Linked DNA regions of Homo sapiens: region 2 is linked to region 1. Evidence: fine-mapped expression QTL. Tissue or cell type: esophagus mucosa. Region 1 holds a variant in brackets; the other region holds the start of a gene. All regions are shown on one strand. Distances are from middle to middle.

Region 1 (8,106 bases):
TTATTGAATAAATGAACATCTCAGTACATTTGTGAATAAATAGGACACAGAAGTTTTTCCTACCAAATACATAAAGTTTCAGAGCGTGCACTGACACTTTGCATAATGGGGTACCTCATACATTTGGAAGCAGCCAACCCTGCTGCTGCACCTTTTTATTCTTTCAGGCTCTTTCTTAGGTTGGGCCAGCATGTTCTTGCTGATGAATGGCTTTTGAGGACACCTGCTCCTTCTTCTCTAGTAAAGCACTTCAGATATAGAGAGACAGTTGCCGTAGCCCCGTCTCCTCTTTTCCAAACCAGGATCTTGCTCTTGACTCATGATGTGTTGCAGCCCTTCATTTCCTGGCGGATGATATCCCTATCCATATATGGTCCTCAGAGGCAAACACAACTCCAGTGAGTTCTGCCCAGCACAAAGCCCATGGTGTCATTCGTGATCTTAAGTAGCTACCATGTTCATGGACAGGCAGCCTATGATTCTGATAGTTTTTTTAGTAACCAACATTATACAGTTGGCACACAAAAGTAATCAGTCAACTCCAACATCTTTTTAAAAAATCAACTTTTCTCCCTTGATTAAAAAGCAATACATTGTGACTATTGAAGGCTTCGTGGAAAATACAGTGAAAGTAAGGTCACTTATTATCAATCTGTTTGCTAATCCTGAGTTAATCACAGTTAACAGTTTCTTATATTTTCCTACCATCTTTTTCTGCGTATGTATTTTCATATACTTAGTATCCTAAAGTGTATGCCACTTCGCATCTTGGTTTTGTTTTGCCTTTACTACCTTCTAAAATGATTTTCACATAGATTGGCCCCACACTCAGTCAGAATCTCTGGGAAAGGATCCTAGTCATGTGATTTTTCTTTTTTCTTTAATTTTTTTTTAAATTCCCGGGGAAATTAAACTAAATTAGAAGGCATGAATATTTTTAAAATATGTTTCCCTGTTGATTCTAGTGCACATCCAGGGGCGAAAATCATTAACAGAATCTTACGGGCATTTATTTGGTTTTGTTTATCATCTATTTAGTTAGCATTTGCTATTTGGTTGTAAGTATTTTTCCCGCATTTGCAGATCTGATCAGCATGCTTTCTGTGCATTACTCATTAAGTTGTCAGTTTGACCATGGCCAAAAACAGAGACCTAATGATCTCGCTCTGGCTAGCACACTGATATTAATCAACTCTGAGGAAATACTCATTCAGCAAGCTATGTTCTTAATTAGTTTTTCACCTCCCTCCTACAACAAGATCATGTGCAACTCTATAATATAGTATTTTCTACAGAAAAAAAGGAGTTAGTTGAATATGACTTGACCATGATCATTTCAGTGCCTGGACAGTCAGCAGAATGCTAGCCTCTCTCTCTTGCTCTAAGAGAGTAAATGTGGGATTAGACACAGGTGAGCTATTGCTAGAAGAACCAGCCACCAAGCTCCTGAGGGACAGTGGGGTTGGTCACCAGCCTCAGTCCACACCTGCCTAATCAAGCTGGGTATTCATTCCTCGACTCAGCCAAGAATATCTGAATAGCCAAGAAAGAGGAAAGGGGTGGTGGATGTAAATTATAGGAGAATAATTCTCTGCAATTCTTTCAATGCACTTGCAAAGATACAATTTCATTTACTTCTTATTCCTCTCTGGGATGTGTATTCCCCATGTTATAGATGAGGACATTGCCCAGAGCAGTGGGATAGCAGAGTCAACCAGGTTTTCTGACTGCAAGACTAGTATTCCTCCCCTCTCTATCTTGCCTCCCATACAAGTCTCAATCTCCCTCTTCCCTCCACGAGTCTAGTGGCAACTGCCTTACTGACTGAATTGCACATTGTACTCCCTACCTGACTTTTCAATAGGATGACTTATGTAACACCTTTTAAAAGCCCATTTTTTCCTGGTATTTATGAAGAACTGGGAGCTTGGCCATGGGCTAAGACTTTCCTCTGCTTGAGTTATCCAATATGGGATTGCCAAATCTGGGTAAATACGACTGCTTTCCCCAAACTGGCAGGAGCGAGTCAGAACCTCACATCTCTACCCTTCCTTTTTTATAGGGTACAAGGGTGAAAAGTCTTAGCCTTGCAGAACTTCTAATAGATAAATATTTAATAGAAAAGAGCACTGGGCTAAAAGTCAGTGCAAAGTTCTGCCTGGTCAGCAGCCTTCATCTTTGTCCCTGCACCAATCCCCTTAACTATCCCAAATCTGCAGGCTCAACCCCCTTCTCACCTCTGGGACCACCCCTATCTATGGGCCTAGCGGGGTTGGCCCAACACTCAGACACCTTTTTCTGGACGCTGTGGTGTTTCTTTGCCCCCTCTCCCTTCATAAGCCCCATCTTTGATGTAATCATGAGGTTCCAGCCCTATTTCTTAAACCTGAATATCCATTTATGCCTCTTGCCAACAACTTCAGTCCCCATGGGACTGAGCTTCTGACTTTTTTAGTGCTGGATACCCTCCCAGGGGTAAGAGGCCTGTTCCCAAAAATGGGGCCCAGTGCCTGCGGCCTGGATACTAAACACCTCAATCTCCGACGTCGCCTGCTCCCAGCTTCCTTTCCTGGGTTTCACCAGCAGTCGATTACATTGCCTCCTTCTGCAGCCACAACATTCAAAGATTTCATTCTGTTTCTCAGGCTGCACTGCTCTTGGCAAAGGCCTCTCCATGTGTTCCCCAGGTGCCTTATCTGAGTTCTGACCTACATAGTCTGACCCTCCCGAGGGATAACCAGGGAACCAGGGCATGCTAGCCATGTCCCAAGATGGGAGGGTACAGAGAACTGGTTCTAGGCCTGGCTCTTCTACCAATTGTCTGAGTGGCCTAGGACAAGTCACAGGGCCTCCTGAAGCCTCCTTACCCAACCTCAGAACAGGTCTCTATACCAAAGGGGGTAAGTGGGGGTGGTGGATGGACCTAGAAACATACTAGAACATCTGCAGTTTGAAGATTCTTTTAAAGTCATTTATGCAACGGGTAAGAGGGAAAGCCCTCTTTCTCTAAACATACACTTGCACACTCTTGACTTGTGTCAAATTCTGGTGTGTCTAACAGTGAACAAAGAAGCTTGGTTGCCACAGGCTGTCAGCCAAGACCCTCCCAGGGGAACTTCAGGCCCAGGAGAAGGGAAAGCAGCTCTGTGGAATGGGTGCTCACTACTCTCCCTGAGCCATGGCTCGCCTGAGACTCACCTTCAACATGGCACTCCCAGCAACCAGAATCAAAAGACCACAACACAAAACTTATTGCTGTCTTTCCCCAGAGCAAAGCCCACTGCGTAGAACCATTGACAGAGATATTAACTCAGGCAAAATTAGATGCACCCCAGAGGCAGCCAGGAAGGGGCAGGGCTGGTACCAAAGGACAAGGGGTACTGGTGGAGGCTTGAGAAGAGGAGAAGGGGGTGTTCCTGCTTCCCACCTGCCCCCTTCCTGGGGTTGTACATGTGTGTGTAGGAGTGAGCCTCCTTCTCCCCTGTGTTGCTTTCAGAGCCACTCCTTGTTTTCTGGAGGACAAGGACACATTCCCTGCCAAATCTCCTTCGTTTGGTAAAGCTATACCCTAGGTACCTTTGGGTCAAGGAAAAGAGATTCCTCATAAATTCATCTAAATTGCCTGTTCTGGGCATTTCCAAAGTAAATTTCTTTCTTCCTTTTTTTTTTTTTTTTTTTTTTTGAGACAGAGTCTCACTCTGTCGCCCAGGCTGGAGTGCAGTGGCATGATCTTGACTCACCACAAACTCCACCTCCCAGGCTCAATTGATTCTCCCCACTCAGCCTCCCAAGTGGCTGGGATTACAGGTGGGCGCCACCACACCCAGCTAATTTTTGTATTTTTAGTAGAGACGGGGTTTCGCCATGTTGGCCAGGCTGGTCTCGAACTCCTGACCTCGAATGATCCACCTGCCTCAGCCTCCCAAAGTGCTGGGATTACAAGAGTAAGCCACTGTGCCTGGCCTCCAAAGTAAATTTCTTAAAACTGATTCCACTCCTCACACTCAGATAATTGTATAGATTTTAGTTTATAGACCAAAAGGGGGCATAATTTTATATTTGTAAAAACTAACAAAATAGGTTGGCTTATAAATATGTATTTCAGTTTATTTGACTAGCTAGAATATTTGTTATTTATTCTTCAAATGCAAAATGCCAAATTCATTTTTTAAAACAACAATAATAATGAAGTCCCGTGTGTGCCAGCCAGGGAGTGTGGGGGCTGGGTGGGGAGGGTGTGTTCACATGGTGGGGGGAGGCTTCTCTCCTGCAGCAGGCTCACCGGAGGTCCCAGGGCAGCCCTGCCCAAGCGTGACATACGTTAGAAAGAAACCATTCCCATCATTCACAACTGTCTTGTGAGGTGGCTTAGACAAGTGTTGTTCTTATTTTACAAATGAGGAAATTAAGGCTGGAGAGGTTAAAGGGCCTTTCCACGATCTCATGACTCATTATGGCTGGAAATAGAACGTGGCCGGTCCCCTGGCTTTTTCTGCTGCTTTCTCCGGGACTGGCAGCTATGACAGTTCTGCTTTGATATGGAGTGTGCCCCTCCACTTTTCTCCATCCCAAGGGACACATTTCCA[C/T]GCAGTGAACATCAGTGCACACCAGGGACCCTTCTTCCTCACCAGCCAGCCCCAGATGAGTCCCCCTGATGAACTGATGCTCTGAGGAACGAGTGAGGGACCACAGTCAAAGATCATGCAGCAGGGAGGCAGGGTGAGAGGTGTTCATCCTCCGTGTTGCCAGACATGCCTGTACCCGGAAGACGGAATCAGATGCAGGGTTTCAAAGGGAGACAGATGCAAGAAGTCCATTCAGATGCCTGTAGCTTCCATTCCATGCCTGCAGCTTCCCATTCGGATGCCTGCAGCTTCCCATCCCATGCCTGCAGCTTCCCATTCGGATGCCTGTAGCTTCCCATCCCATTCCTGCAGCTTCCCATCTCATGCCTGCAGCTTCCCATCCCATGCCTGTAGCTTCCCATCCCATGCCTGCAGCTTCCCATTCTCCAGTTTCTTACCCACCACTTGTTGCCGAGTGACCCAGACAAATCAATGACTCTCTCTACACTTCTGGGTCCTGGCCTGTCAAACTTAGAAACCAAGAAAACTCACCTTGCAGTGTCATCACAAGGGTGAACTGAGACAGAAGCACTTTGTAAACAGTAAACTGCTGTCACAATGTCACCATTATTGTCGTTAGCTAGCTGGAGTGTGGGATATAAAAACAACAGATGGTTTCTGCTTCCTTCCGAGGAGATTACAATCTAGGAAGCACGTGCACTATATTCACATGAAAATATTTAAAGGTAGCCACGTTCCGGAAGAAAGGCATCATCCAAGATGTGCCTAATCTAAGTCTAATTTTCCTATAGATAATCATAAGACAGGAAGGGAGTATGTTCTCAGAGTGCCTACATCTAGATTCATGGTATCCTTGCTTTAAAGATGCTTCAAAACACTTCCTAGCAGAATCTCTTTTATGTTGCAGAGTCTTTCTCCCAAATTAATGGCCCAATGGATCACGGCCAGTGACAGGCCTTCTTCGTCTATCACATCTAATGTCACTTCATACCACAGTTGGCCCTCGGAATCCAGGGGTTCAACATTCTCAGATTCAACTAACCATGGATGGAAAGTATTCAGGAAGCAAACAAAAAAAGATGGTTGTGTCTGTACTGAACATGTACAGGCTTTTTCTTGCCATTATTCCCTACGCCAAACAGTATAACAACTATATACATAGGATTTATATTGCATTAGATATTATAAGTAATTTAGAGTTGATTTAAAGTATATGGGAAGGGGCTGGGCATGGTAGCTCATGCCTGTAACTCCAGCACTTTGGGAGGCCGAGATGGGTGGGTCACTTGAGGTCAGGAGTTCGAGATAAGTCTGGCCAACATGGTGAAACCAGTCTCTACTAAAAATAGAAAAAAAATAGCTGGGTGTGGTGGCATGTGCCTGTAATCCCAGCTACTTGGGAGGCTGAGACAGGAGAATTGCTTGAACCTGGAAGGTGGAGGCTGCAGTGAACTGAGATCGTGCCATTGCACTCCAGCCTGGGAGACAGAGCTAGACTCCGTCTCAAAAAAAAAAAAATGTATACAGGAAGACGTAAGTAGGTTCTATGCAAATCCTAGGCCATTTTCTATCAGTTAGTTGAGCATCACAGATGTTGGTATCCTGGGGTGGAAGGTGCCGGGGGTCCTGGAACCATTCCCCTGTCATACTGAATGGATCATAATTTACAGCACGTTTTCAGTGCCACTATATTATAAAAGCTTACATGATACTTTCATAGGATAGAAAAGATATTAAATTATTAACACAATGAAAAAAAAAAAAAAACAAAAAAACCCCAGCACTATAGCCACAAAAATCACTCAGGAAAACATCTGCTTTGATTCATTGTACTACTCCCCATCACACTGACCAAGGCCTGTGGAGGTTTCCCTGTGGAGGTTTCTGTTTACCGCAACTGTGGCACAGCCACCAGACCAGGGTCCAAACACAGCGTAAGTTTCACTGGCTGTGCTCTGGATTTGTTATGCCATTCTGGATAAATCATGCAAATTTGGAGGAATTTGGACTATTTCAAATGTTGCCCATTCTGAAATTGAGCAATCTCCAGTAGTATTTTATTGCTATTTTACATAGCATTATTTAAAATTTGCATGATTCAAATTTGCCTGAAATGTGAGTGTATTGTTCAAATGACAGCATCTTAACAGAGCAAACAGCATTCAAATGACCTCCATATCAGTGGAATAAAGGTGGGAACAACTGACTTGCAGGGGGCTGGCTAATGGGGGAAGCACTTTTTGAAGGATGAACATTTTGAATATGTTGAATAAAAATACATTTTGAGTATGTTTGAATAGAGAGTGATTTGGAATGTGCTGAATAGAAGACATATTCTAATTCTATAATATACCACTTCTTTGGTACCACTGGAAATGGCTCAATTTCAGAATCAATAGTTCTGACTTCTGCACTTTAGAAAGGACTTTGGATGATTTCTTTTTTGAAAAGCTATGCCATTGTCATCCTATGGGTTTCACTCAGAGGCATGATAAACACCCAGGGTGGGGAATGAAGACACCCTCAAAGAGTAGGGAATTCTGCCTCAAATTCCTGAGGGCCCCAGAGTGGGATCTGCTTCGTCAAGCACAGCGCATGAATTATGCAATATTTTTCAATAACTAAAAGTAACCATTAATATCTGCCTGAAAGAAGCTTGACCTGGGAGTATTATCTTTGGTTGCCAGAGGATACATTCAATCCTTTTTGGTGTTTGTTTGAATAATGGAATAGACAGTTTAGGTTGCTTAGCTGAACACAGAGCACATTTTTATCCTGAAAGGGAAATTAGAAATCCTGACTTTAAAACAAAGACAGGATTCCTTCTCTGCTTGGATCAGCACATTAATCAGCTAATAAACAAATATTTATTAAGTTCCTGCAATGAAACCTTTGACTTTCCTGTGTAATAACTTTTGACAAATTCTCTAATATCCTGGCAAAGAAAATATTTTCTCTACCAAGTCATCTTAAAACATGTTTATTTTTCCATTTCATCTTTGAACAAACTAAAGGTGTTTCATTTTTTTGCCCCATAGAGATGGGTTATTCAATTACATGTCTCTTTCCAGTTCTAAGTTACACAGCCTTCGGTCAGCAAAACAAATTTATTTTTCCATGTTGAAAAAGATAAACTCATAAGATAAGATCACCTACCTAATGGTTCCAAAATCTGATTTGTGCGTTAAAATCACATGGGGAAACTATCGATGTATAATCAAATGCTAGCTAATTTGCCATTAGTCCAATTTCATTTTAGGGACCACTGACTTCATTTTACAGGCAGGGAAGTTGAAGGTAACACAATTTGTGGCAGAGTTGGCCAAGAGACCCCAAATCTCCTCCCAGCTTACAGTCCTGTTTTCATTCTACTGAACCTTCCCTTACATGAAACAACTTCCAGGATTAAAGAGATAAATATCTGTCAATGAAATTTTAAATGGATTTTTGGACATATCTCTTCTATTTGTTTCCCCTGAATTTCTACTTTCTATGAGTACATTGGATGTCAAGTTCCTTA
Region 2 (8,098 bases), 670 kb before region 1:
ACATATGTAACTAACCTGCACAATGTGCACATGTACCCTAAAACTTAAAGTATAATAATAAAAAAAAAAAGAAAAAAGATTCAATGTTCCTGGCATTCAATTGTTTGATTCATCTTCATGATCATGATTGGCATTTTGGTTGCTTTTGTCCTGATATAAACATGTTTTGAGGCAAATAAATAATCAGCCATGGTGGCTTCATGGCAGCAACTGGGCTAGATGGTTTCAAGGTTGCTCACAAATAGGCCTGTTGATTCCCCATCCCCATCCACTGTGAAATTCTCTGTCTCAAGGGAGTTTCCGCTATTTGCATACTTTCTACACGAAGGCCTCCTAGGAGGGTCCAGCCCTAACTTTAAAATTACCTGTGCAAATAGCAAAGACTTTGAACCAACCCAAATGCCCATCAATGATAGACTGGATAAAGAAAATGTGGCACATATACACCATGGAATACTATGCAGCCATAAAAAAGAATGTGTTCATGTCCTTTGCAGAGACATGGATGAAGCTAGAAGCCATCATTTTCAGCAAACTAACACAGGGACAGAAAATCAAACACCACATGTTCTCACTCATAAGTGGGAGTTGAACAATGAGAACACATGGACACAGGGAGGGGGACATCACACACTGGGCCCTGTTGGAGGATCGGGGGCACAGGGAGGGAGAGCATTAGGACAAATACCTAACGCATGCAGGGCTTAAAATCTAGATGACGAGTTGACAGGTGCAGCAAACCACCATGGCACATGTATGCCTCTGTAACAAAACTGCACGTTCTGCACATGTGTCCCAGAATTTAAAGTGAAATAAAATAAAATAAAATTCCCCATGCATTGCCTAGTTCTATGTCTGCATCCAGCAGCACCTGAAATCCCGGCCTGATGCAGCCCCGGCAGTTCATCTCATTTTATTTTGCCTGAAGTCTCCAAGCAAGTTCTCCCAGCTCAAGGGCCAGCATTCTTTCCAACAACTCATCACTCCTCGTTATGCAAAGGGAAGAACACCAAGGGCTTTCTGTATTCTGAGCAATAATTCGGGTAATGAAGTGAGAGCTTAGCCTCTCTTGTGAATGCTGAGGAACCCTAAAACAGCATATCTTTTGCTTCCAAAAAGATCTAGCATAGCAATTTTGTTGGTTCATAAAATGCTCAAATGCTCAAACCATATGTTTAGCTACAATTCCCAATGGCTATATCCTTCTTTATATGAGTAAAAGAGGAGGTTTTCAGCATCAGGTGGAAAAATAAGTATGGGTATTGGGGAAAATAGTCTAAATTTAACTCTGAGTCAGTTCCAAGACAGTGGAGGTGATACCAGGTTCATGGCCTGGCATTTCCCAGCCTGCGAATTCTGCTTCAAGTCTGCAAGTCTGCCCAGTAGGTACAAGACAAATCATACCCAAGGACATTTGTACAGAAACATGAGCCTTGCTAGATCCCTCCCTTGTGCAGGGTAGCTTCTATGAAACATATAGACCAAGCAGACTTCCACATCAGTGAATACATTTGGCCATCTGAAAATACAGAGACTTAACACATATGGAGACCTGTGGCTTCCTCGGGCCAGCCTCAGTTTGAAAGCAAGGGTGAGATCTTTGTCAGACACTCACGGGACCTGTGCTGCCCATAAAGGAAGGGGCCCTTCTCTCAGGACAGCACAAGGGAAAACACCCACAGCCGGAAAAGAAGGTGTGTCTCAGCATGACGGAGGCTGTGTGCAAATTATTCCTTGTGCCAATATCAGGAGTGTGGATCTGACAAACAAAAGGCCATGTCATTGGCTTAGTGTCTCTGTGGAGTCTGTAATGGTCCTTTTACTTACTTGAGTCCTTTCTAAGATGGATTTTGTTCATTTTCCACTAAGATTGCAGAAGCTGCACGTGGCGTGGCAGTTTATGAATTGGGTCCCCTGGCAAGGCTCTGAAAGACAGCTGGAGTGGGGGTGGGCTGTGTGTGTGAAGCCGCTGCACAGAGCTGGAGTCGGCTGTCCACACAATCACGTCTATGTGAGAGCCGGCAGCCTGCAAACTGCTTCCCTGCAAGGGGAGACACATGCCAGGGGAGGGCCAGAGAATTTTGTTAATTCTGTTTATCTTAGAGACTGTTTTTTTGTCTGCTGGGGGAAATAAAAAACAAATACATAACTTCCTTGCTTGTGTGCAGTCTGATTTTTTTCTCTCTCTCATGCCCTCATTTTTATTTCTCCGAAGTATCTCTCCCCTTCAGTTTGGGGCATCAGTTTATGGCATTTTTCCGTACATGTGTATATAGTATCTATGCACAAAGTCAGAGATATAAATGTCTGTTTTAGACTCTTTTGGCTTTAGTGTTCTGTGGAGGTCCATGAGATATCAGAGATCTCATTTTCTTTCTGTTAACATAATTAGCAGAGCTCTCTCTGTGCTCAGAGTGCATAGCTGAGTCCCGCATAACCAGCAATAACAGTGCATTCTTAGCAGCCTCCCTGGATAGTTTGCTAAATTCTTTCTGAGAGCCTCTCGCTGCCTTTACAAAGGTTATAGCTGAAAAACAAACCAGAAACTGGGAATCCAACTCTGTGAGCAGAGAGAGGGCTGCACATTCTATTATCGCACGGATAGAGGCTCAGGTTCATGCAGTCGCGTTTGGAGTCCTGGCAATTTCAGATGAAGGCCGTCCTTAGGAAAATCAGCTATCCCAAGCCCAGGCAGTCTGGGTTAGCCGAGGTTTTTGTTTGTTTTGTGGAGTTTTTGCTGGTTGGTCTTTTGTAGATGCTGCAAATCACAAATGGGGAACCTGAACGACACAAGCTTTTTCTTCTCCGTATCATTTTACCTGGCCAAAAAGGCAAAAGAAGGGGAAGGTGGCATTGCTAAGTCACAGGGAAGGATATGACCTAAACATCCCCCCTTCCCCAAGTAATCCGGGAGCACCACTCCCCTCTGAGGACCCCACAGGTACTTTCACAGTCCAACACACTGAGAAACAAGCCCACAGGGTGCCAGGATGACATGACCACAGAGAAAAGGGACAGAAGGAGTTTGGGACACATGCACGGACACCTGTTGCTTTTGCAGACTTGAACTTAGAAAATATGAGCCTCATTAGAATTTCTCTTTCTAAAATAAACGACCACTTTTAATATCGTCAAATATCATGTACTGCTATAGTTCTCTGTCCTCCGCACTGAGAATCCAAAACAGGTCCTTGGGATAACTTTTGGGAAACAATACCGCCACGAAAACAAAAGTCTTCTCAGCCAAGAACACAGATTTTTTTTATCTACCTTTGATGTCCCAAAGGACTAGAGAATCCAGAGCATTTAAATAAGACTCCAATGCCAGGAGCTCACTGTTCCCTGCTGGATGCCAGCCCTCCCCTCCCTGCCCAGAAGAGGACATGGTACTCACCAGTCATTAGGGTATAATAATTGGGATACGAGAGACTAGGGAAGTCTGGAGTCAAGTAATCCACTTTTACTCCCCTGCTCACAATCTCTTTGAAACCAGGCAATGACTCCAGCGCCTCATCACTGATGTAGTCTGAGCGAAAACCATCCAGCAGAAACACCAGCAGCTTCCGGCGGGCAGAGGCTGGCTGGGCCAGGCCCAGGGCAAGGGCCAGCAGGAGGGTCCCAAGCTTCACTGCCATGCTGCCAGGAGCCTGCCAGAGCCCGGCTGGCACAGCTGTCGCCTTGCAAAGACTGAGGATGGAGAATCTGTAGCTATTCTCTCTTCCAGGGGCTGGACCTTGAGCCGCTGGCCTTCCTGAGTCAAGTTCACTTGCAGAATTTAAAGGAACAGCACCCCCTTTTCCACACATCTATGCTCACCCTTTACTAGAAAGTCCAGAGACCGACTCCTTCAGATAAACTGGGTTCCAAACAACCCAGAATTAACACCAGGGGAGAGAGTTCAAACTTATTATTTTTGGTGAACGTTCCAGAAATACAAGCACCCACAGAGGTGGAATTTTAGAAGATGACAAAGTCAACACTAACTTTGCAGTTGAGCTAACCAAAGGGAGGAACCAAGGAAAAGGGCAAGATTTTAATTTGCTGTTATCCCACATCATGGCCTCATTTAAACTCTTTTTCACTTAGAATTTAGTAACGCAAACCTCTGGACTCAGTGCATAAACAGGAAACAATACGTTTCGGTGGGCCCATTTGTAAACTTCCCAGCTGTGTCTCTGTAGACACAGCACTTAAAAAAGTTATTTGTCTATGTCTTGGCCACTTATGTTTTTATATGCAGTGTTATTATTTGTTATTATTTTATTTTTCAAATGTGATTTAGCTGCTGGTGCCCATAGGAGGAGGTGGTTCGTAGAAGAGCCCTAGAGCCAATGAGAAGCTTCCAGAGTTGGACAATGGGAAATCATTACTGGCAGAATGGTCTGAAGCAGCATTGCCCCAGGAGGATGGAAATGAAATAGAGAGCTGGAGATTGAGAGCTTGAGATGGAAAAGCAGAGCTAGAAATTACCATGCAGGCTTTGGGACCGAGAAGACTAGGCGGAGTGGAAAATAGGAGGAGGTTAGTGACAGGGAGGCAGATGTGAGCTGGGGAGCAGACAGAGTTAGCACAAAGTACCCAGAGTCCAGGGGTTCCCTAGAGTGGCTCCGTCATGCTACATAAAATTAAACAACACAATTCATGTGAAGGCTTATAAAACATGGCTGAGTGCAGTGGCCCACTTTGGGAGGCCAAGGTGGAAGGATTGCTTGAGGCCAGGAGCTTGAGACCAGCCTGGGCAACACAGCAAGACCCCATCTCTATAAAAAATTAAAAAATTAGCTGGGCCTGGCGGCACGTGCCTGGTCCCAGCTACACAGGAGGCTGAGGTGGGAGGATTGTGTGAGCACAGGTGGTCATATCTGCAGTAAGCTGTGATTGTATCACTGCACTCCAGGCTGGGCAACAGAGTGAGGCCCTGCCTCAAAAAAAAAAAGACATAAAACATGCATGGTCCATAGCAAGTGTTGAACAAATGTTAGATGTTATTCGCATTATAACATTGCTTGTCTCCTGAGGAAACTTGCAGGCTCTGGGCAAACTTTCCAGGGAAGGAAGATAGACACCAGCCACACCAGCCACTCTCAGTCAACCCCAAAATCCCTCTTCCACCTCTGCCCTCTGCTTGTGTCTTTTCTCCTTCTCTTTTTCTGTTGTATTTGAGTCAAGCCCAAACACAGGATCACCATGTCACTTTTTAAATTATGCTGCAAAAGAGAAACACATTGGCCAAATTACCACTCCCCTCTCAGGGGACTTGGCCAAGGATCAGAATTCTTTTTTCCAATAAGAGGTAATGCTTTTTATAATTAAATTTAAATTTTTTTCTTATTAAAAAATAAGGAAAAGGGGAGTTTATCCTAAAAGGTTGTTACTTTGAAAACAATGTTATTCTTTTTTCTTTGAGCTGTGTGGTATTGTTGCTATAAACAGAGAAAAAGAAAAGAGAGAAGAAAGAGGAAAGGAAGGAAGAAAGAAAGAAAAAGGAAAGAAAGAAAAGTAAACGAAGGAAGGGAGAAAGAGAAAGAAAGGGAAGGGAAGAAAAGGGAAGAAGGAAAGAGAACAGAAGGGAAGAGAAGAAAGGAAGAAAAGGGAGGAAGGGAAGGAAAGGGGAGGGGAAGGAAGGGGAGGAAAGGGAAGGGAGGGAAAGGAAGGGAAGGGAAAGGGAAAGGGGAAGGGAAGGAGGAAAAAAAGAATAGAAGGGAAGAAGGGAAAGGAAGAGAAAAAGGGAAGAAAAGCGAAGAAGGGAAGGGAAGGGAAGGGGAGGGGAAGGGAAGGGAGGGAAAGGAAGGGAAGGGAAAGGGTAAGGGGAAGGGGAAGGGAAGGAGGAAAAAAGAATAGAAGGGAAGAAGGGAAAGGAAGAGAAGAAGGGAAGAAAAGCGAAGAAGGGAAGGGAAGGGAAGGGAAGGGGAGGGGAAGGGAAGGGAGGGAAAGAAGGGAAAGGAAAGGGAAAGGGGAAGGGGAAGGGAAGGAAAAAAAAGAATAGAAGGGAAGAAGGGAAGGGAAGAGAAGAAGGGAAGAAAAGCGAAGAAGAGAAGGGAAGGAAAGGGGCGGGGAAGGGAGGGGAGGGGAGGGAAGGGAAGGGAAGGGAAAGGAAGGGAAGAAGGGAAGAAGAGAAGGAAAGGGAAGGTGAGGGGAATGGAAGGGAGGGGAGGGAAGGGAAGGGAAAGGAAAAAGGGAAGAAGGGAAGAAAAGGGAAGAAGGGAAGAGAAGAGATGGGAAGAAGGGAAAGGGAGGGATGGGAAGAAGGGAAAGGGAGGGATGGGAAGAAGGGAAAGGGAGGGAAGGGAAGAAGAGAAGAGAAGGGAAGGGAAAGGGAGGAGAGGGAAGGGAAGGGAAGGAGAAGGGAGGGGAGGGGAGGGGAAAAGGCAGATGCAGCCTGATGGGTTGATGGGCCTCCTAGACACTGAACATCACATGTGCTAGAAGGAGAACTTCTTCCCCTGGTGAGGGCCCATGGAGGTAGGAGGCCCAGATAGCTGTGCTCTGTGAGTTCCTGAGAGGCTCAGGGATTGTCTGGACTGCGAAGCTGGAGTCACAGTGCAAGTCCAAGTGATTTACTTTGGGATGGCCTCTGAGCTCACTTTGGGATGGCTTCTGAGCTCACTTTGGGAGAGGTTAAGCACTCCAAATGTTAAAGATGAATATAAGAGGGACTTCCACTTTTCTCCACTACTAACAAGGGTACACTCAAAATATGGCTCCCTGAGTGCCTCATTGAGCTGTTGTGGGTGTCAACTCAGAAGTAACTTGCTTCAGATTAGCGTGTTCACAGGTCCCCAGAGGCTCCCAAGGCTCCACAAAGATTGTTGTGATGTATCTGGGGTGGGGTCATCATTGTTTTATGATAATGTTTATGATCATATTGTGTTATGACCATGTTTAGACAATGTCTCTAAAGCTTTGGATCAATAAATGATTGCCAATATGAATCTCTAATATACATACCAATATATGAAGAAAGAGACGTATTGGATGGAATTCAAGCCAAGGTAATCCTAGGGTTGCTCAAAGCCAGTCTCCAGGTCTTGAACCGTCTAACCTAGAAAAGATTGGAAATGAAAGCTAAAAAGCAATAGTTAAAAGCCATATGTCATACAGGTGGTTAACATTAAGTGCCCAAAGTCTTGTGATCCAAAACCTATGTGTCTATGATCTGGATGTCTTCACTTGGGAGTGGTTATCAGTACCTAATGCTTATAAGTGCTTATTGCAACTTGTTTTCAAGGGTTGGCAATACTGTAAAGTCATTGTCCACAGGGGTTTCACTTAGATAATGCAAAATATGAAAAATTTACTCCAGAAGTTGAAAGAACCTTTGTCCTAAAGCTGCTGCAAGTCTCTCTAGGGACATGCATGAGCTCTCAGGAAATGTGCTGTCCAGATTAGTCAGCACCCTGGTGCCTCCCCTTTATGGAGAGACAGGTGAGATGGAAGGGAAAGAGTCTCAGAAAAACAAAACAAAACAAAACAAAATAAACAAACAAAAAACACAAAAAAAACGTGATTCCAGAGTCAAGATCCTGGTATGATGCAATTGTGTGATTCTGAAGAAATTGCCTTTCTGGGCTTCAGTTTTCACCTCTGAAAAGTGACAAAGCTCTAGCTTCTACTTTCTAGCTGTAGAATCAATGCAATTTGAGAGTGAGGTCCCAAGTCAGCCCATGTCGGCCAACATCCACCCTTGTTGGTCCTATTAATTAATTCATCCCAGCTTTTGCAGCCCTGCTGGCCTTTTGTTGGTCCATGTCAACCCTCCTTGTATCTGGAAAAATATTATTTAAAATTTAAGACGACATAAGGACATTTTTAGATAAACAAAAGATGAGAGAATTAGTTACCAACAGGCTTGTACCACAAAAAAATACTAAAGAATGTCCTTTGAGAGGAAATAACACAAGATGAAAATTAATATACACAGGAAGGGAAAAAAATTCATAAATGATCAATATGTGAGTACATATAAAAGACTATGTTTTTCTTTCATAAATGTCCTTAAAAATAACTGCTTAAAGTAAAAAGAATAACACTATGCTGCGAGTGATGACTTACGAAGAATTAAAGGATATAAAGACAACAGCCTAAATGAAAGGGGTAG

What was found. PIP is the estimated chance that this variant, and not a neighbour inherited with it, causes the effect.
Region 2: it holds the start of ENPP6, and the variant in region 1 is fine-mapped to the expression of ENPP6 in esophagus mucosa (GTEx, PIP above 0.99).

What each region holds. Positions count from the first base shown.
Region 1 is chr4:184,885,449-184,893,554 of GRCh38, forward strand. It overlaps LINC01093 (long intergenic non-protein coding RNA 1093), which reads right to left. Exons shown (of 2, transcript NR_039977.1): 2 at 7,552-8,106. Among named protein-coding and RNA genes, the nearest start is that of LINC01093, 10 kb to the right of the region's middle. The variant C/T (reference allele first, on the strand shown) is at 4,587.
Region 2 is chr4:184,214,185-184,222,282 of GRCh38, forward strand. It overlaps ENPP6 (ectonucleotide pyrophosphatase/phosphodiesterase 6), which reads right to left and starts at 3,689. Exons shown (of 8, transcript NM_153343.4): 1 at 3,395-3,689. The coding sequence starts at 3,635.